Linked DNA regions of Homo sapiens: all the other regions are reported to be linked to region 1. Evidence: microRNA targets listed by miRTarBase, many of them from high-throughput screens and not tested one by one. Region 1 holds a microRNA gene; each other region holds the end of a gene's coding sequence. Distances are between the middles of the regions.

The links. Region 1 holds the annotated microRNA hsa-miR-30e-3p (CUUUCAGUCGGAUGUUUACAGC, at 1,722-1,743, shown strand). A microRNA usually pairs through its seed, bases 2 to 8, with sites in the 3' UTR of a target mRNA and lowers its output. Matches are read on the target gene's strand: a 7mer-m8 pairs with bases 2 to 8, a 7mer-A1 pairs with bases 2 to 7 and ends in A, and an 8mer does both.
Region 2: the mRNA of RSL1D1 is a reported target of hsa-miR-30e-3p. Seed matches in the 3' UTR shown: 8mer at 3,168-3,175 and 8mer at 4,085-4,092.
Region 3: miRTarBase lists ARL2BP as a target of hsa-miR-30e-3p. Seed matches in the 3' UTR shown: 7mer-A1 at 1,521-1,527.
Region 4: miRTarBase lists NBPF3 as a target of hsa-miR-30e-3p. Seed matches in the 3' UTR shown: 7mer-A1 at 2,624-2,630.
Region 5: the mRNA of KRTAP5-9 is a reported target of hsa-miR-30e-3p. Seed matches in the 3' UTR shown: 7mer-A1 at 3,822-3,828.

What each region holds. Positions count from the first base shown.
Region 1 is chr1:40,752,692-40,756,840 of GRCh38, forward strand. MIR30E (microRNA 30e) reads left to right here and starts at 1,664; the gene lies at 1,664-1,755. It overlaps NFYC (nuclear transcription factor Y subunit gamma), which reads left to right. Exons shown (of 10, transcript NM_014223.5): 5 at 460-555.
Region 2 is chr16:11,834,249-11,838,376 of GRCh38, reverse strand. It overlaps RSL1D1 (ribosomal L1 domain containing 1), which reads left to right. Exons shown (of 9, transcript NM_015659.3): 9 at 264-4,128. The coding sequence ends at 590. Among named protein-coding and RNA genes, the nearest start is that of BCAR4, 7.5 kb to the right of the region's middle.
Region 3 is chr16:57,251,679-57,255,813 of GRCh38, forward strand. It overlaps ARL2BP (ARF like GTPase 2 binding protein), which reads left to right. Exons shown (of 6, transcript NM_012106.4): 6 at 488-1,957. The coding sequence ends at 589. It overlaps LOC124903697 (a long non-coding RNA gene), which reads right to left and starts at 114. Exons shown (of 2, transcript XR_007065082.1): 1 at 26-114.
Region 4 is chr1:21,483,062-21,487,061 of GRCh38, reverse strand. NBPF3 (NBPF member 3) reads right to left here. Exons shown (of 15, transcript NM_032264.6): 15 at 2,162-3,919. The coding sequence ends at 3,676. Among named protein-coding and RNA genes, the nearest start is that of ALPL, 24 kb to the left of the region's middle.
Region 5 is chr11:71,548,935-71,553,080 of GRCh38, reverse strand. KRTAP5-9 (keratin associated protein 5-9) reads right to left here. Exons shown (of 1, transcript NM_005553.4): 1 at 3,473-4,146. The coding sequence ends at 3,914. Among named protein-coding and RNA genes, the nearest start is that of KRTAP5-9, 2.6 kb to the right of the region's middle. RefSeq lists enhancers at 2,648-2,697, 4,096-4,146, 3,698-4,146.

The DNA.
Region 1 (4,149 bases):
ATCCAGTGACTTGAAAATGTTGCAAAAAGTTATTGAATTAGGATTTTACCTAATTCAATACTTGTGAACCAAAGGGAAAATATTATTTAGGGCCTTAAAAAGATTATAAACCTAACTTTGCTAACCCACAGAATGACCAGAAACCTGCTAATTGAGATTACTAGGTTTGTAATTTGAAAATCGCGGGGAGAGGATCAAGCAGGAGTAGCAGTGGTTGGAGGCTCAGATACCCCATTTTACAGTGTGAGTTACATGTATCTCTTTCTTTTTTGTTGATGGTTGCCCACCAGGTCTGATCATTTAAAGTATATGAGTTTGGCTGTGCTTATTTCAGCTGTAGACTTGCCCGTAGGTGTTTAGTTTGGCTTAAAAGTCGTCTTACCTTACTTGGAGGGTATAAAGCCAAGTGAACTAGTTTCTCCCCAGGCTAATTTTTCACACCGCTCTTCTTTGTTACAGAGAAATGATATCGCCATGGCAATTACAAAATTTGATCAGTTTGATTTTCTCATCGATATTGTTCCAAGAGATGAACTGAAACCTCCAAAGCGTCAGGTGAGCTGTGAAGGGATTGCAGTTGCTGCTGACTGAAGAGCGCTTTGTATACTGGTGTCAGATACGCTCCTTCTCTCTCAGCACAAGTCATTTGCTATTCCTTTTGCTTCTCGTTTCTAGACCAGATTCATTCTTAACATCTCCTTCTGTTACTCATTTCTGGATACTTTTAACTCAGTGCCTCCGAAGTGGTATTTCAGTGAAAATAGACAAAATGAAAATGAAAGACTTTAGTTACAAATGGTAAAGTTAAGCTCATTTCAAGTTATCTTAGGAAGTCTATCAGAGCTCTTCATCTGGGATAGGAGAATATTCCCAGAAAGTTATAGATTTTAGATTTTTAAGAAACAGCTTCTCTATGTGCACAGTGGCATTTGGAGTGAATGGACTATGTTTTCTCTTCCTCTATATTGTGGTTCATTATATCTTTATATAGTACCCTGACTGCACACTAGAATCACCTGTTGGGGTTTTAAAAATATCAGCGCCCAGGCTCTAACCCACATCAGCTGAATCAGAATCTCATGATGGAGCCCAGGCATCAGTACCTTTTAAAACTCCCTGGATGCTTTTAATGTGCAGTCAGATTTGAGAACCACCACTTGAGCTGTTTTGCAAGCAATCACAAGAAAGAATATGAACGTCTGCCTTCCCGTCTCTTCTGCCTGCCCCTCTCCAAAGGTCACACTAGTTGTTTTTTCAGCACCTTGGGTGCATATAGCTCTTAATTGTGATTGTAATAGACCTCTGTCCTTTAGAGCTCATTGTTTTAAGCATGCAGATTGCATGATTCACTAGGTGCCACTTGGGAAATTGTGGCAGAATCTCACAGGAGCAAAGCTGTGCCTTGTTCTGCTTGCTTTGTTATATAAAACTTTATTTTTAATGAATTATTTCATAGTATATTATCCTTAGAAGCAGTCATTCAGTGACAGCCATTCTCCCCATCCCAGCCTGTATTAATAACCAGTCAGAGAAAGTCTAGGAGAAGTGGGCATCCTAATGAACATTTGTAATTCTGACCCTGCATGAGGGCCTTTGGATTAGCAAGCCCTCTGTCACCTCCTTACTAGAGTAGGGTGTGCCTCACTGCGTCTCCGTTCTTTCTGGGCAGTCTTTGCTACTGTAAACATCCTTGACTGGAAGCTGTAAGGTGTTCAGAGGAGCTTTCAGTCGGATGTTTACAGCGGCAGGCTGCCACGGTCGTCCCCAGCTACGCACCGGCTTTGAAACATTGCAGGTTTGTGCCCACAGGCTCAATTCCTCCTCTTGGGGGTCCTTCCCTCCTCTCTCAGAAGTCACAACAAGAACTCAGGCCATTTATCTTCCTTCAGAACAAAGAGTATCATACACCTGCTTTCCTTGTTGAAATTGTTTTCTCCTTTTGTCTATCAGAAGCCCCCTTTAAAACAAGATTGTGAGCTCTGTGATGAAATCAGGCCTTGCTCACTCTCATTGTGCTAACTCCTTGTTTTCTGTGGGCTGCCTGCTGAATACACTGGCTGGAGAGAAGGGTCACATCCTGTCAGTTCCTCCAAATTCCTCAGTGCTTCTGGGTCTCTCGGGGTGTCATACAGCTCCTTATTCCATCTTAGCCAGACTCAAAATGCTATGATCCATCTGATTTTAAAGTGTGTCTAGCTGAAACAGCTTCTTGTTGCTTGGATTTAGTTCTTTGTAGGTGTTCGAGGCATTGATTGGCATCGTATTCGGGACAGCTGCTGCCTGGCCTTTGAAAGGTTGAGATTGCTGAAAGCTGGCCTGAAATTCTAAGATAGCATTTTTAATCCTCTGTAGACATGAAGTTTTCCCAGGCTTCAAATTGGCTGGCACCTCCTAAAGTCCTTTAAAACGCCTACTCTCCAAAACCCACCCTTTCTGAAGGAGGCAGCAGTTCACTCTTGCTACTAAAGCGAATGTACTTTTTTCCAGTCAGGGCTGGTTGCACAACACTGTAGAGATGGCCCTAGGATGTGATGCTGCTCTTCTCTGGCACTGTTCGTCAGTCTCAGCTTCTGGAAAGATTCCAAGAGCAAGCCCTGTAGTTGGGGAGGCCACTGCTAAAGTTGAGCAAGTGCCCCATTCTGGATTGATCCAGTCATTAAAGCATTGTTCTGCCACTTGGGGCAACCTCCCACTGCTGGGAAAAGGAACTAGTCAGAAATACTGAATTGTGAGTCCAAGGCCCTGACTTCTCAAAGATACTTGAGAGTTTCGCTTGTTCTTCAGAGAAGCAAGTAAAGATTATTTGAAGGTAGGAGGTAGTTGAGGCCTGACTTCTGCCCCACTAAAGCTATTGAGTTGAAAGTTCCTGCCCATTGAAATGTCATTATCTTTTCACCCATTTCTTTAAACCAAGCATAATCATTTCCTTGCTGGCTTGACCTCCATTGGCAGAATGAGTCTTCATAATGCAGAAGAGCCTTAGATATGCCTTCTTCCATTCCAGTGATTTGAGAACAGTTGTGCCTTGTCCTAACAACACAAACCTAGGTGCCTCCACTTGATTCTCAGTGTCCTAGATACTGTCTAGTTCATAAACAGTTTAAGAGGATGTAGTAAGCAGCATAGGAGGAGCTCTTGTCCTGCTCTCACAGCTTTTGGCAAGAGATATTTTGGGTTCTGGAAGGGGTTTTTAAAGGGTTTGCTTTTTGTCTGACAAAAAGATCATATTCAATACTAGATCAGCTGTAGTTGGGGATAACTGGAGACTAAACAATCACAGGTCACGGCTAGAAAATGCAGGTGTCTCCCTGCTGCCTAGCTTCCTACACAGCTGGTTCTGAGGCTCTCATTCCTGTATACCCTCTCATTACCCAAGAGCTTTTCCAAGTTAGGTCTGGATTTCAGTGATTTGTGCTTTTTGTAAAATAATAAGGGAGATCTCAGTGGAACACAAGTACCTTGAACCTACTTCAATAGCTTTGCAAAGAGCAGTTGGCTTCTGTTTCTTGGCTGCAAAAGGTATCAGTATTTTAGCTTTGCCACAGCCAATACCTAGTTTCCAGGCTGACATTTATTTATAATGATGATAAGTTGGGGTTGAAATTGTTGTGGAAATTGAGACCTAGATGAAAATAAAAGGGAATCTCCTTTTCCTTCTGCCTTAGCATAATCATATTGAGGGTTAAAACTATTTGTGTCTGAAGCACAGACTATATCAACCTAAAAAGTCAGTTCATATATTAACTTAGAAACCCAGAATGTTACAGGTATCTCCCTAAGCTGGGTAGATGGCTGTCAAGTAACCATGTCATGCAGAGACCCATGTTTCTCAGGGGTAGATACTGGCAGTCCTAGTTTTAGTATCCTAGCCCCCAGACATCAGGCAAACAAAGGATACTCAGCTCTGTTCCACAGGGGACACTAGCTGCTTCCTCACACTGTGGCCACAGAGTCTTAGAGGTACCAAAAGAGAGTTTAGAGACTACTTTTTTCTATTGGTAACAGCTGTTGGGTTTAAGAGAATTTGTCATATCAGCAAGTTGGATTCAGAGAACTACTTTCCTGCCTCTAACTGTCTGCCTGTCTAAATCCATTCATCATTCATCACGCACTTACTGAGTGCCTACCTGGGAACGCGGGGGATAGCAG
Region 2 (4,128 bases), not on the chromosome of region 1:
AGCCTGGCTAACATGGTGAAACCCTGTTTCTACTAAAAATACAAAAAATGAGCCGGGCGTGGTGGCACACACCTATAATACCAGCTACTCGGGAGGCAGAGGTTGCAGTGAACTGAGATTGTGCCATTGCACTCTAGCATGGGCAGCAAGAGCGAAACTCAGTCTGAAAAATAAATAAATACAAATAAAAACAGTAACTCCTGGAGTTAGAGTGTCAGGTTTTGTGGCTTTTTCTATATTAAACTTACTTTTTTTTTTCTTAGATTCAAAAACATGCCACAGGAAAGAAGTCTCCAGCAAAGAGTCCTAATCCCAGCACACCTCGTGGGAAGAAAAGAAAGGCTTTGCCAGCATCTGAGACCCCAAAAGCTGCAGAGTCTGAGACCCCAGGGAAAAGCCCAGAGAAGAAGCCAAAAATCAAAGAAGAGGCAGTGAAGGAAAAAAGTCCTTCGCTGGGGAAAAAAGATGCGAGACAGACTCCAAAAAAGCCAGAGGCCAAGTTTTTCACCACTCCTAGTAAATCTGTGAGAAAAGCTTCCCACACCCCCAAAAAATGGCCCAAAAAACCCAAAGTACCCCAGTCGACCTAAAGTCAGTGATTCAACTGGAAGGAAACCTCAATGCTGCCTCCAGAGCTTTTTGGAAATACTCAGATCCTGGCCGCCTTTGTAACCTTCTCTAAACGTCAGGCCTGGACTTAAAAGATTTTTTAAAACCTCCATAAGTAGTCCAGGGGCGGTGGCTCACGCCTGTAATCCCAGCACTTTGGGAGGCCGAGGCAGGCGGATCACAAGGTCAACGAGATCGAGACCATCCTGGCCAACATGGTGAAACCCTGTCTGTACCAAAAATACAAAAATTAATTGGGCATGGTGGTGGACACCTGTAATCCCAGCTACTAGGGAGGCTGAGGCAGGAGAATTGCTTGAACCTGGGAGGCGGAGGTTGCAGTGAGCCACTGCACTCCAGCCTGATGACAGAGCAAGACTCAGTCTCAAAAATAAATAAAAATAATAAAACCTCCATAAGTAATCCTGACATATGTTCCTGGGTATAATCTGTTTCTAAATTGTCCTTCTGTGTATTTGCTAATGTAATAGAGGGAAAAATAGAGTGCTTCTCTGTGGTTGTTCAGCACTTTAGGTAGCCAAGGTGAGAGGATTGCTTGAGGCCAGGAGTTTGAGACTAGCCTGGGCAACTTGGTAAAACCCCATCTCTACAAAAGAAAAAAAAAAATTAGTGTGGCATGGTGGCATGCATCTGTGCTCCCAGCTCCTCACGAGGCTGAGGTGGAAGGATCAAGTGAGCGCAAGAGGTTGAGGCTCCAGTGAGCCACGATCACCCCACTGTGCTGTAGCCTGGGTGACAGTGTGAGATTCTGTCTCAGAAAAAACAAAGTATAACATTGCTTTGCTTCTGAGTATACTGTTGGCTTTCCAAATCAGTGGGTCTGACTTGAGGTCTGTGATGTGACCCTTTTCCTCACCTGCTCAACCATTATTCACATGGACTCCATCATATTCATTTGTAGTCATTCCCAGAGTGGCCCAGTGAGGGTCTCGCTGTATGAGAGTCGGCTACGGAATTTAGGAGAAACAGAAGTTTCTTGGCTTTCATGCTGAGCTTGTTGGTCTAAGCTTATGAGTCACTGGATTAGCATCCATATGGGAAGGGAAATTAACATGGAGTCATTTATACAGGGACTAAATTGAATCCTACCTACCGGAGGCAAGAACATGATTTATCTTCCATAAGCCTTATCCTCTTCCTCCTTATTCCTCAGTCCATATGGATTTGCTTATGTATGACAACTCCAAGGAATCTTGGAAGAGTAGATTGCTAACGTTTCCACAATTGTCAAGTATATTCTGAGGCAGTAAACACCTTTTTAGGTACGTGGCCTTTCACTGGTTGTGAATTGGTATGCATCCGTAGTAGTAAGTTCACAGATTCACTGCAGTGCAGGAATGTTCTTGCATGCCAAAGACTCAACTGCTTTCAAAGATAATGTGGGTGCTAGATGCAGTGGCTTACATCTGTAACCCTGTTAGGGTGACCAGACCCAACACCAGGTCGTGGGGGTGACAAAGTCCAGTGGAGTCAAAGGATTGAGAAAAAGACAGTTTGAGAGAGAAGTAGGACCAGCAGACCATCGGGATGGTGGAGGCTGTGAAGGCCGTGAGCTCTGGGAGCCCACACTATTTATTGGTAATCCAACAAAGAAACAGATGGTGAGAATGTGAAGGTCAGAAGGGCACCTTGCATTAAGCACATGATTTACAGCTGTGATGGTTTAGCATTTGCTCTGCTACTTGAGATGATGGAGAGCAGGTTCTTTTAACTCAAGTTACAGTCGATCCTGGGAGAGCAAGGAGCCAGCAAGTCTAGACATTCCAGAGCCACAGGCCCTGGATTTTATCCAAGCCACGAGGGATTTTATGCCCTGGGCTTAGATTATGGTGCGTCAGGGCAGCCTTCCACCCTTTAGCACAGAGCTTGGTGTTCCAAAGACCACAAGGGGTTTTAGACCCTTGACCCTGGACATATTCCAAGACTCTTTTACATTATGTCAGAATGCAAGCCCTGCCTCAGCTTCTCCCAACACTCAGCTTTTCGCAACATAATCCCAGCACTTTGGAACGCTGGGTGGATTGCTTGAACCCAGGAGTTCGAGACCATCCTGGGCAATATGGCAAAACCCCATCTTTACCAAAAATAAGCTGGGTGTGGTGGAACATGCCTGTGGTCCCAGCTTCTTGGGAGGCTGAGGTGGGAGGATTGCTTGAACCCGGGAGGTAGAGGCTGCAATGGGCCATGATCACGATCCTGCACTCCAGCCTGGGCAACAGAGAGAGACAGTCCCTGGCCCACTGCCCCCTTCCCTGGCCCAGTCTCAAAAAAAATGAGGCTGGGCGTGGTGGCTCACATCTGTAATCCCAGCCAAGGCTGGCAGATCACTTGAGGCCAGGAGTTCTGAGACCAGCCTGGCTTACATGGTGAAACCCCATCTCTACTAAAAATACAAAAACTAGCCAGGCATGGTGGGAGGCACCTGTAATCCCAGCTACTTGGGAGGCTGAAGCAGGAGAATCACTTTAACCCGGGAGGTGGAGGTTGCAGTGAGCTGAGATCACACCACTGCACTCCAGCCTGGGCGGCAGAGCAAAACTGAAAAAAAGAGAAAAAAAAAAACATCTAGCTCTCCCTGAAATTAGAGGAGTCTAGCCTGCTTTTGCTGTTTTTTTGGTAGCGAGAGTAGCGGGCAGTGGGGGAGATGGTCTTACTCTGTTCCCCAGGCTGGAGTGCACTAGTGTCATCACAGCTCCAGCCTCAATTTCCTGGGCTCAAGGCGATCTTCCCACCTCAGCCTCCCAAGTAGCTCAGACTACAGGGGCATGCCATCACAGCTGGCCAGTTTTTACGTCTTGCGTAGAGATGGGTTTTCCCTGTGTTCCCTAGGCTGGGCTCGAACTCCTGGGCTCAAGTCCTCCTGCCTCAGCCTCCCAAAATGTTCAGATTACAGGCATGAGGCAGCATGCCAATCCTGTTTTTGCATTTTAGTAACACAAATTGTAATGTTAACTTTTTAAATTATGAAAGCATCTAAAATATAAAATTATTTGTAACCCCACTGTCCTTTTGGGCTTCTATAAATGAATATACATCTAAAATGTGGGGGTTTAGCTTAATTGATTGTTTTCCATAGAAACTAGGTTTTATGGGAAGATGGTTGGATAGACTTGTTTCACTTAAAGGTCTGGTTTGTGTAGGACAAACCCACATATGTAATCGTGCCAGTCTGTTCTCTGCATGACATAATTTTCCAGCAATAGCTGTGTGGTTTTTGTAATCCTATCATCTAGTCAGTTCAAGATCTTGCAACACTGTGTGATTCTTTGCTCCGTAGTTCAGTCTTGTTGAACATGACACAGGTGTTTACTTTCCTGTTCTTGCATCTAGTTTCATTCTAATAATGTTCTCTGTTGAAAAAGCTGGCTTCAATTTATTGAGCAAGATGCTGGTGTTATCATCTAACATAAAACCTATCTTATAATAAAGTGTTGACACATGTAATGAGTACTGTACTGAAAAATGGTGGTATGTATATGGTTTGTACTGATTATGTAT
Region 3 (4,135 bases), not on the chromosome of region 1:
GCTGGACACAGTGGCTCATACTTACAATTCCAGCGCTTTGGGAGGCCAAGGCAGGAGAATCACTTGAGCCCAGGAGTTCAAGACCAGCCTAAGTGACATATCAAGACCCTGTCTCTACAAAAATAAAAATAAAAAAGTTAGTCAGCTGTAGTGGTGCACACCTGTAGTCCTAGCTACTCAGGAGGCTGAGGCAGGAGGACCACTTGAGCCCAGGAATTCCAGGCAGCAGTTAGCTGTGATCAAGCCACTATACTCCAGCCTGGGTGACAGAGCAAGACCCTACCTCTTTAAAAATAATATTAAAAAAAATTAAGACTAGGGCAGGCCAGTATTGAGCAGAAATGCAGAATAACCAATAACCTGTGTTCCCTTCCTATGTACTCTGGAGGTCCACGTTCCCACCTTCAGCTCTGCCTTCCCCATGTCAGAGGCAAGATTCCAAGCCAGGGCTCTTTCTAGTCCTTCCTTTGGTTGTTTTCTCATATAGGAAAAAGAAGGCCGAGGACTGGACTTAAGCAGTGGCTTAGTGGTGACTTCATTGTGCAAATCATCTTCTCTGCCAGCTTCCCAGAACAATCTGCGGCACTAGGTCCTACCTCCAGCCAATGAATGGGATCATTCTGGATGTCACCAGCCCAATAGGCTCAGCTCATGATGACAGAACACATCTTGGAAAGACTGACTCTGTTATGTAACTCTTCATTTATGTTAAGTATTAATAGGTCAAAACCAAAATGACCTAACCCTCCTGGACCTATTTATCCTGAAACACCTTCTTGTATTCATTAACCATAGTACTCCTCCCCACCTCAAGTAGACACCTCTCTCAGGAGCTTCTGAGTCAGACGCCTCTGGAGCGAGCCCTATGTCAGGCACTCCACCTGGGGGGCCCTTCCCCAGCATACCTGCTGGTGTGTAAGTGTGGACTAACCCGCCGCCACCACCCTCTGTTCCAGCAGGCTCTGCATGAATCTTTGTGCACTTGCACCTCTTTTTCACATGGGCCACAGTTTCAGTACTTCAGCCTCAGTGGGGTTCCTGATGTTTATCTAGGGTGTTACTCAAGCCCAGTTTGAGATTTTGGAGTCTCCTGTGATCACATCTTGTCTCGGCTGTAGGAATCAACAGAAGGAGACGTCCTCTACATAAAAGCTCCATGTGAAAAGCTACTCCTAGTCTTAACATTTGCAGTCCTTGTGTCACTGTCTTCTGGTCCTGATGTAGTCCCACTGTTTCTAGAAGTCTCTTTTAAGCATTATTTTTGAAAAAAAAAATATTTTTATAGATGAATACTCAGGCTAACCTAGTGGATGTGATCTTGGAACTTCCATGATTATCCACTTAAAGATCAAAGTATTATATGCTGTGTGCTTTTTAGGTGTTTGTTAGTACTGTGAAGGCAAAAATGCTTTCTACATTGACATTCATTCCTATTTTACTGGGCACCTATGAATGTATGCTGTGTGCTAGAAATAGACTAAAACATATTCCTATAGCATGTTAGTGTGTTTGCATGTTTGCTGAAAATCCTTTGTGTATAAACCAGTTTGTAAGGTTCTCTGGGTTAGGTAGGGACTCTGCAGTTTCTTCCTGTCAAAATCTCTCCTACCAAGATGGTGTTCCACTGTCCAGCCCAGCATGAGTAGCAGGTAGAGCACAGCTTTACTGGCTGTTTGTATGCTTTGGTTTAGTGCAATGTGTGGTAGATTACTTATCAGAAAACATATATGTCATCTCTAGAACGAAGAAAAAGCATAGTAGTTCAATTCCCAGTGTGTCCCTTTGATTTTTTTTTTTTAATAGTAAAAATAAGAATCTGTACTGACTTTTCACTTGGCCATTCTGGTTTTAAAGGACAAGCTACAAGCTCTGTGTTTCTGTACTGATGTGTCACTTATTAAATACTTTTGTACCATGAGTAAAACTTCAGGTGTTTCGCAAGAACCACCATTCTCAATGAGTTGTATTCTTTCTTTAATGTAGCCACTGCCATAAGGTTATTAATTATTGCTTTGGTCTTTTTTTTTTTTTTTTAAATGCCACCTCTCCTGGGCTTGCTTTCCCTTGCTTTGTCTATAAATGGGAGGTCCACCACAGCCCAGGCATGCTGGGAGCACTTGCTAAGACCTGTGGACCAGCCTGCCTACTTGAGAAAAGGCCAGTGGACAAGTCCAGAGATTAAATGATGAAAAAACGATGATAAAGGCAAATTGGTTTTTCACCCTTTTTTTTTTCTTTTTTTTTTGGGAATGGAGTTTTGCTTTTGTTGCCCAGGCTGGAGTGCAATGGCACGATCTCGGCACACTGCAACCTCCACCTCCCGAGTTCCAGTGATTCTGCTGCCTCAGCCTCCCAAGCAGCCGGGATTATAGGTGTCCACAAACACGCCCAGCTAATTTTTGTATTTTTAGTAGAGACAGGGTTTCACCATGTTGGTCAGGCTGGTCTTGAACTCCTGACTTCAGGTGATCACCCACCTCCCAAAGTGCTGGGATCACAGGTGTGAGCCACCATGCCTGGCTGGTTTTTTCACCCTTTCTGCTCAGCAAAAAGGAGGCAAGTCTGTTGTCACTTAATATTATAAGTAGACATTCTGATTTCTTTTAAAATAAACTAGCAGCCTGTCTCTCCATCCTCAGACACTTAGACTGTGATGTCAGGTGCCACCTTTGATGGGGCTCCCACCTGCCCTGGGGTGAGGAAGCCCCAGTCCTCTTGCTTAGGACTCCTCCCCAGTGGGAAGCAGTAGTCACACAAACTGCTGAGCCTTAGCATTGACTGAATGCCTTTAATGTCCCCCCTGAAACAGGCTTTTGATTCATGTTGGAAACATAAGAGGGGTGAGCTCTCTAACTTGCCTGGGATTTTGTTTTACATTTAAGTGTATTGCCCTTCCTTAAAACCAAACTCTTATAACTTACTCCTGGAAGGACTAATTTATTATTCAAACTCCGAGACTTTAGAGTAAAAAGTGATGCTATTAATATTTATACCAGGGCCAAGTGTGGTGGTTCATGCCGATAATCTCAGCGCTTTGGGAGGCTGAGATGGGAGGATCACTTGAAGCTGGGAGTTTAAGACCAGCCTAAGCAATATAGCGAGACCCAATGTCTACAAAAAATTTAAAAATCAGCCGGGCACAGTGGCTCACGCTGGTAATCCCAGCACTTTGGGAGGCCGAGACGGGCGGATCACGAGGTCAGGAGATCGAGACCATCCTGGCTAACACGGTGAAACCCCGTCTCTACTAAAAATACAAAACATTAGCCAGGCATGGTGGCACGCACCTGTAGTCCGTTACTCGGGAGGCTGAGGCAGGAGAATCGCTTGAATCTGGGAGGCAGAGGTTGCAGTGAGCCGAGATCACGCCACTGCAGTCCAGCCTGGGTGACAAAGTGAGACTCCATCTCAAAAAAAAAAAAAAACAAAAATTAGCTGGGCATGGTGGCCTGCACTTGTAGTCCAAGCTACTGAGGAAGCTGAGGTGGGAGGATTGCTTGAGCCTGGGCAGTCAAGGCTGCAGTGAGCTGTAGTTGTGGCACTGTACTCCAACCTGGGCAAGAGAGCAAGACCCTGTCTCTTAAAAAAAAAAAAAATCGGCCAGGTGTGGTGGCTCACACCTGTAATCCCAGCACTTTGGGAGGCTAAGGCAGGCGGATCATGAAGTCAGGAGATCAAGACCATCCTGGCTAACATGGTGAAACCCCATCTCTACTAAAAATACAAAAAATCAGCTGGGCGTGGTGGCGCTCACCTGTAGTCTCAGCTACTCAGGAGGCTGAGGCAGGAGAATTGCTTGAACCCAGAAGGCGGAGATTGCAGTGAGCCAAGATTGCGCCATTGCACTCCAGCCTGGGCACTAGAGCAAGACTCGGTCTCCAAAAAATAAAAATAAAAAATAACAAAAGGGTACAGAGGGTACCTAGAAATGCTTTTACCTTATTGTTCAGAGAACGTTGTTCTGTGGTGTTGGAAAAATAAGCTCAGGAGTACTCAGCTGCTTTCCTCTGCTGTCTCTACCAGCTCTGAGCAGGCAGCATGGCCAGCCACCTTGATTATATGACCTCCAAGCTTCACAGACTTTCAAGGTAGATGATATTGTTGAAATCTTTGATTCAGTAAGCTCACCTAACCT
Region 4 (4,000 bases), 19 Mb from region 1:
AGCATGGCGACAGAGCGAGACTCCATCTCGGGGGGAAAAAAAGGCAGGGTCTGTTTAGCTCCAGTACTCACCATATCCCCCTTTCTCCAGTCTACCTCCATTTAAAAAGGTGAAGGGGATATGTTTTGCAAATTCTAAAGTTGTAGATGAATCAATCATCCCCAGAACTACTTACCACAATAATAAAAGATGTTGAGGGGAAAGGGGAGGGACTGGAAGGAGAAACTTTTGGGGCAATGGAAATGTCCTGTATCAACATATAGAGATGATGGTAGAAGAGTATATATTTAGTGCAAGTCATTGAAATGTACACCTAAGATCTATGAATTTCACTGTATGCAAAGTTTCTCCTTTGAAAATTTTCCCTTTCAAAAACAGCTATACAAGGCATTATTGGTACAAATGGGGAAAGCTGAATATATCTACATTGGATAATATTATTGTATTAGTGCTAAATTCTTGGATGTCAAATTCTTGGATGTTCCAGAGAGTGTTTCGCATGTGATTAAGATCGGGATGGGCAGACTAAGTGAAGCAGATTGCCCCCTTAACGGGGGTGGGACTCATACAATCAATCAAAGGCCAGGAGAGAATTAAGAGGCCTAATAGGAAACAAATGCTTTCCTGGGTATCCATCCAGCTTTCCTTCCATCTTGGGAATTTCAGCCTCCATAATCTCAGAAGCAAATTCACATATGTATACACACACATATACATTTCATAGGTATGTGGCTAAGAGTGTATTTTTAAAAGTTCAGCCATGAGATGATTGGTGAAGCCAGCCAATGAATAAGGGTGTGTTCTGTTATATGACTCGGTCTTCTTTTGTACACGATTGAAGTTCTGCATTTGAAGTAGGAGGACAGGAGAGAGCAAGACCACCTAGGATGATAACAGCTGAATTTCTCAACAGACACTTCAAAGCCCTAGGGGTTAACTTAGAGAGTCAAAAATCCCACCCATAACCCTGTCCCTAAACGCCAGGGCTAGGGAACACTGTGGCCCTCAGGTGATTTTCTTTCACTTGGTCTGGGAGCCACACAAGGGCAGAGGGAGCAGGAAACACTAAGCAAATCGAGGCCAGGACAGCAGGGAGGGCCTGTTCATGACAGAACACAGGTAAAACTATCCTCAGAAAGAGCATGTGGAGAAACACAGATCATGCCTGAGACCTGGTGGATTAGAGCACTGGCTACTGGGGAATTGAAAGGAAGGGGCTTCACCATGCAGAGGACCAGAGGTGCCAGTCCTGGAAACGCAGAATTGCTGGGAGATGGGGAGGCATGGACAAAGGAAGCATCCGCTGGAGACTCATGGTGAAGAGAACAAATGAAGTAACTGGCAGAAATTATAGGTCCTGGTAGAACAAAATAGAATCCCACAACGAGAACATACACCATGTATGTCCCGCAAGGAAGACAATAGCTCCTAAAAACACAAGAAAAATCATTTTGGGCAAACACCTTATATCCAGTAATGCGATCCATGTATCAAGACCGTGAGGAAGATTATTAAACATGCTAAACTCAGCGAGACCTGATTCCCTCATGAGGACTCTGTTAGGATGAGTACCACTCAGCAAGTGATGACTGTGACATTCACTTTTGAACAGCTCATGAGCATTAATATATTTAATTGTGGATCTAAACCAAAAACCAAGGTGTGGGCAAGATGACAACCACAGAATGTCACTGGTGTATGTTTAGGTTCAAATACGATTATGAGAAGTGGCAGGTAAAGGAGGTAGGAAAAAGAAAACACATCATGTAATTGACTGTCATATGGAAATATGTGATGTTGAAAGTCATAATTTAAAACGTATAAACCAAATATTAGAAGTGTGTCTAGTTCAAAGGGGGGAAAACTATGAAACATTTTTAGTCAATATCAAACATGAGCTACACAACCCTTCCTAAATGCCAGAGGCACACGCAGACACACACACACACACTCTCACAAAGAATATAAATATCTAGAACCAAGAAATGGAGTACATGCATTCTGCTACATATGGTAAACATAGCCTACAAGGTGGAAGAGATTAGAAAATAAACAGGGAAATGAAAATGTTTTTATTAATTCGCATCAGTACCCACCAAAACCAATCAGCATAACAAAAGATTATAACGCTGAATGTAAAAAACAATCCAACAGTCCAGAGTGATAGGCAAAAGTTTTTAATTGTATAGATTAAAATAACTTTGGACAAAAATTAAAACTCAGGCAGAGAATGTTTTTTTTTCAACAACACACACTAGCAAAAACAAAGGCACAGTAAACATTGAGGCAGCAAATTTCCAGCGTAGAGATATGAATATAATAATAGACACAGGCAGGGATGATTAATAAATGATAAAACGTTTAGAGGATGATCACTGGAATACAGGACATTTCTACTTTGAAAAACCACTCTCCCAAATACTTCATCATAAGTAAGGTGTCTCTAAAAGGGACAGATCTCCTAGACCCCTCCTTAACCAAGTAACCAGTCCTGATATCATGATAATGCTGATGGACAAACTAGACCTTCTCTGCCCACAGATGGGCTGAGGTTGGAAACTCACAGTATCGACTCTGTAGTGTTCTTGATGAAACGTTTAGGCTGAATTTAATCATGAAGACATTTTCAGACAACTTCAGAATGTAGACCATTGAGCCAGACAGCTGACCTGTCCTCTACAAACAAGTCCATGTCACCAAAATCAATGACAACAACAAAAAGATGAGGAAATATTTGGGGTTCAAAATAACTAAAGAAATGTAGCTACATTATCATTTACTTCTTCTGAACCCAAAATATCTCTCCTCCTTTTTGTTGTGTGATTCGTGGTGACGTGGACTGTGTGAAGGAGACAGGTCAGTTGTCCTGCTCAGTGTTCTACATTCTGCAGTTGTCTGGTGATTACCTCCTATGAAACTCAGGCTAAGCATTTTCTGCAAGAACATGGCATTGTTCATATTCTGCACTGGCAGAGTCCCAGGTGACATGCTGTCTCTTGCCAGCGGCTCCTGACTCCTGTTCTTTACAGGATGGAATTGAAAGGAGCAGGACTAAGGCCTCCCAATGCTGTTTGTCCGTCTAGCTGTGGTCTTCCTAAGTATTGATATCAATTGGAGGCTGAAGGACTATGGCTTCTCTACTCAAAGGAGCCTAGTGGGTTAACAACTGTCAAGAGCAGTCAGTGGTTCTGAAATACAATCCTCAGCCAAGGATCCCTCCTGTGTTACAGATGGATCAGCTAAAACAAACCAACACTGAAGATACAAAGAATGGGGTTAGGTTCAATGAAACCAGGGTAACACCTTTGGATGAGCTAAACACAAAGATGACACTGACCTTGAGCAGGTATAGAAGCTCAGAGACATGCCTGCAAAATGAAACCCCTGAGGAACTTTGTAGCTACCCAGAGATATCTGGTTCAAATTAGAATGTCTGGCAGATCACTCCCGGCATGTGCTACATAGTCGTGTGAACGTGTCACACCTAACTTGGGTCCAACGTCTTCAGACTGAGCACAGGTGGCCACTGGCATGGTCTGAGAATAGGAATAGAGCCATGCCCACTTTCCCATCCTATGACTGGGCTTCCAAAGGGAACTACAGTTTCATTCAAACCTACATGTGCCTATACGTCCTGCCTGCAGCAATGACATCTCTCAGCTTAGTAAGGGCTGCTTAGTGTGGGAATATGACTCCCATCTGGAAGGCCAGGTGGTGCCTTATCACTGTCAAAGTAAAAAACCTATTGTCCACGTCAAGGGCCAAGCTGACGTCCTGTTCCTCAAATGAGTAAAAGGCACTTCTATACTGCTGGAATGAGGCATGTAGTTGAAAGTAAGTTGAAGTAGTCGAATAACATCTATCCAGTGAGTCCTGCAAGACTTCAGGCTCTTCTGCTTCCATCAGCACCTCGTTGAGCCTGGAAAAGGAGACAAAACTAAAGAAGCAGCCAGGGAAAATCAGACACCACAGAGCCCCAACTAGATTTCAGGGGTAACAT
Region 5 (4,146 bases), not on the chromosome of region 1:
AGAGAATCAAGGTTTGAAAGGTAGAAAGGTGGCCAGGCGTGGTGGCTCACACCTGTAATCCCAGCACTTTGGGAGGCCGAGGCGGGCGGATCACGAGGTCAGGAGATCGAGACCATCCTGGCTAACACGGTGAAACCCCGTCTCTACTAAAAATACAAAAAAAAATTAGCCAGGCATGGTGGGGGGCACCTGTAGTCCCAGCTACTCCGGAGGCTGAGGCAGGAGAATCACTTGAACCCGGGAGGTGGAGTTTGCAGTGAGCCAAGATTGCACCACTGCACTCCAGCCTGGGTGACAGAGTGAGACTCCGTCTCAAAAAAAAAAAAAAAAAAAAAAAAAAAAAAAAAAAAGGAAAGGTACAGAGGCAGAGCTGGTTTTCAGAAATGTCTTCCAAATACTATATCTCATATAGGAAAGCAATTCGATGACATCTCCCCAAATTTGATAATCCTAAAAATTAACATAGTTATTGATAGTGAGCTATGAAACTAAAAACAACCTTTCTAAACTATTGATAATACAAATTTTTAAGAGAGCAGTGCTGGAAGAAATAATGAATTCTCCCCACCATGCCCCCAACCATTAGCATTCGTAGGAACCTCTAGCTGATGCCAAGAAGGAAGGAGGAGCTTGGCTGCCCTAAAGCTTCTCTTGGCACCACCCATGGGAATGGCAGGAGGCAGGGAAGGGGCTGCAGGCACACCCTGGGGGAGAAGCAGGGGCCGCTCCACCAACGCGTGGAGAACACGAAAGGCCCTGGGGATTCCCACATAAACTCACTCAGGTGGGACATGCAACCCTCTGCCTACAATGGGGGCTCGGGTCATTGTTATGGGGCCAGTGAAGAGCCTGTGCCTTGGCAAGCAGAACACCGTGGTGACCTTGGGTAATAGAGAGGTCATGAGATGCCCGAATACACAAATTACATGGGAGCAACCAAAATGTTAGCACTCTAGAGATTGGGGTTATGAGTAATTTGTTGTCTTCTACAATTGTCTATCATTTTTAACATTAAAACACTAAAATTTAAAAATGATATGGGGATAACATCCAGAATATGAATATGTCCATGTATGACTATACCACATTTTGTTTACCGACTCATCAGTTCATGGACATTTAGATGGTTCCACTTGTTGGCAAATGAGAATAAGGCTGCTATGAATATCATCATATGAGTTTTTATGTGATATACATTTCAGTTCCCTTCAGTAGTTACCTAAGAGTGGAATTGCTGAGTCATATGGTAACTCTACATGGAACATTTGAGGAACTATTTTTCAAAGTAGTGGCATGATTTTTTTATTTTCATCCAATGCACAAGGGCTCCCATTTCTCCACATTCTCATCAGTGCTTCTTATTGTCTTTTTGATAATAGCCATCCCAGAGGATGTGAACTGCTATCTTATTGTGGTTTTGATTTGCATTTCCCTGATTTTCCCTGATGTCTAACAATGTTGAGCTCCTTTTCATGTGCTTATTAGCCATTTGTATATCTTCTTTGGAAAATGCCTATTTAAATCCTCTGCTGGGTCTTTAATTGGATTGTGTGTTTGAGTAGTAAGAATTCTTTATATGTCTAGATGCAAGTTCTTATCAAATATATGATTTCAAAGTAGTTTCTTCCACTCTGTTGGTGTATCTTCATTTTCTTCATAGTGCCCTCAGAAGCACAAAAACTATTCGTTTTGATGTAGTTAGTTAATCTAGTTTTTCCCTGTGGTTTTGGTGTCATTATCTAAGAACCATTTCATACTCCAAGGTCATGAAAACTTAACCTGTTTTGCTTCTAGTAATCCTCTAGTTTTGGCTTTTACAATTAGGTCATTGATCTATTTTTTCTATTTTTTTTTTGTTTGTTTGGTATATGGTATGAGGTCAAGATTCAAATTCACTCTTTTGCATGTGGACATCCAGTTGTCTTAGCAGCATTGTTTGTTGAAAACATTCCTCTTTTCCCATGGAATTGTATAGTACCTGTGAAAATACATTGACCACAACTGTGAGGCTTTATTTCAAGAGTCTCAAACCTACCCCATTGATCCATCTTTCTATCCTTATGCAAGAGCCATGCTGCCTTGATGACTGTAGCTTTGCAGCCCATTTAGAAATTGGAAAACCTGAGTCCTCAAACTTTGCTTTTCTTTTTCAAGATTGTTTTAGCTATTTAGGGTCCCTTGAATGTCCACATAAATTTTAGGATCAACTTGTCAATTTTTGAAAAAAGAAATCTGAGATGTTGATCGGAATTGCATTAAATTGGTAGAACAATTTTTTTTTGGAGTGTTTCAATCTTCACAATATTAGGTCTTCCAATACATGAACATAGGATTTTTTCCCCCATTACTTTGGTCCTCCTTAACTTCTTCCAATGGTGTTTTGTAGTGTTAAGTGTCCAAGTCTTGTACTTTTTTGGTTGCATTTGTTCCCAGGAATTTTATTGTTTCCTTACAACCTTTTTGCTTGCTTTTTGCTGTTGTAAAGAAACACAGCTGACTATTGTGTATAGTCCTTGTGTTCTGCACTCTGCTGAGCTCGGTTATTGGCTCTAATAGTTGTGTGTGTGTGTGTGTGTGTGTGTGTGTGTGTGTCCCTCAGCATCTTCTGTATACAAGATGAGGTTTTCTGTGAATAGAGATAGTTTTGCTTCCTTTTTTCTTACCTGGATGGCTTTATTTTCTTTTCCTGTTATGTTATTCTGGCTATAGCTTCAGTGAAATGTTGCATAGAAGTGGTGGGTGTGGACATTCTTTTCCTGTTCCTGATCCTAGGGGAAAACATCCAGGTTTTCATAGTTAAGCACCGTGTTCACTGTGGGTAGATGGCCTTTATCAGGCTGAGAAAAGTCCCTTCTGTTCCTCCCTGTGCCAAACCAAAGCTGGGAAGCCTGTGGACACTTGGATTCCTCCTCACTCTGAGCCCAGAGATGGAGGGTGCACTTCAGCCTGTGTTCAGCCACACCGTCTTGGATCCTTGAAGCAGCACAGTTTCCAGTGTTGTCCTACAGAGCATCTCAGGGACACAGCTCATTCTAGTCTCGCTTCCCCATCTCCTGGCTTGACCCACAAACTGGGGACTGGCTGGACCCAGAGAGCACCCATTACATCCCTTCCTAGGCACTGAGGGCAAAGTTCTCCTTCTCTCCCAAACATATCCTCCCATGGGGAAGAAGTAGGAGTCCAAATTCCAACCAAGACAGACTGAATCCCACTGAGATACAGCTGGGACTCCCTGTGTACTAATGAGAGATACTCACTCATTCACTCATTCATTCCTCGTCTTCATTCATTCATACATACTGCTAGTGGTTCCTTCATTAATCAGTTCAACAACTGTTTCTGGAATGGGAGCTGGGCCTGGCACACTGTTACAGCAGTGGGAGCAATAAGCTATCAGGGAGGAGGGGAAGGACATGTGGCCAGTTTGCCAATGAGACAGAGGCTGGAAGAAAAGAGTCAGTGAGACCAAGGCTGAGGGATGGAGAATTTATTTAGTGCTGCACCCAGATGCATTTTGGATTTCCATAGATACATGTGATCATTTGGGTTGCAGGACATCCATCTGCAAATGTCGTGAAGCTCCTGGCAGGCAAAGGAAAGAAGGGTTTGCTGTCTCCCATGGAATTATCAAGAAGGGGAATTCCAGGCTCTTGCTTGGCATGAGGGCAGCCCCCAGTGCAGTTTGGCTCAGACATATGGGGGCATGTGGGAAAGAGGGGCAAAATTGCCTGGGTCTTGGGATATTCTTATAGGGAATGGGCAGGGAGTGGTTCATTCCATTTCCTCAGGGGCTGGAAAAAGACGCCCTGAGCCAAGGGCTCTTTTCAGATCCAGAAGGGGATGTGCTTCAAGGGTAGTCACTTGTTGGAAAGCACAGATCTTCAGGAGCTACCTGAGGTTTCCCACTAGAGCCTCAGATCTTGCACTGGTAGCACACAGGGACACAGCATCTGGACTGGGAGCAGCAGGGCTTGCAGCAGCTGGACTGGCAGCAGGATGACCCACAGCCTGAGGATGAGCAGCAGGGCTTGCAGCAGCTGGATTGGCAGCAGGATGACCCACGACCCGAGGAGGAGCAACAGGGCTTACAGCAGCTGCACTGGGAGCAGTAGGGCTTGCAGCAGCTGCACTGGCAGCAGGATGACC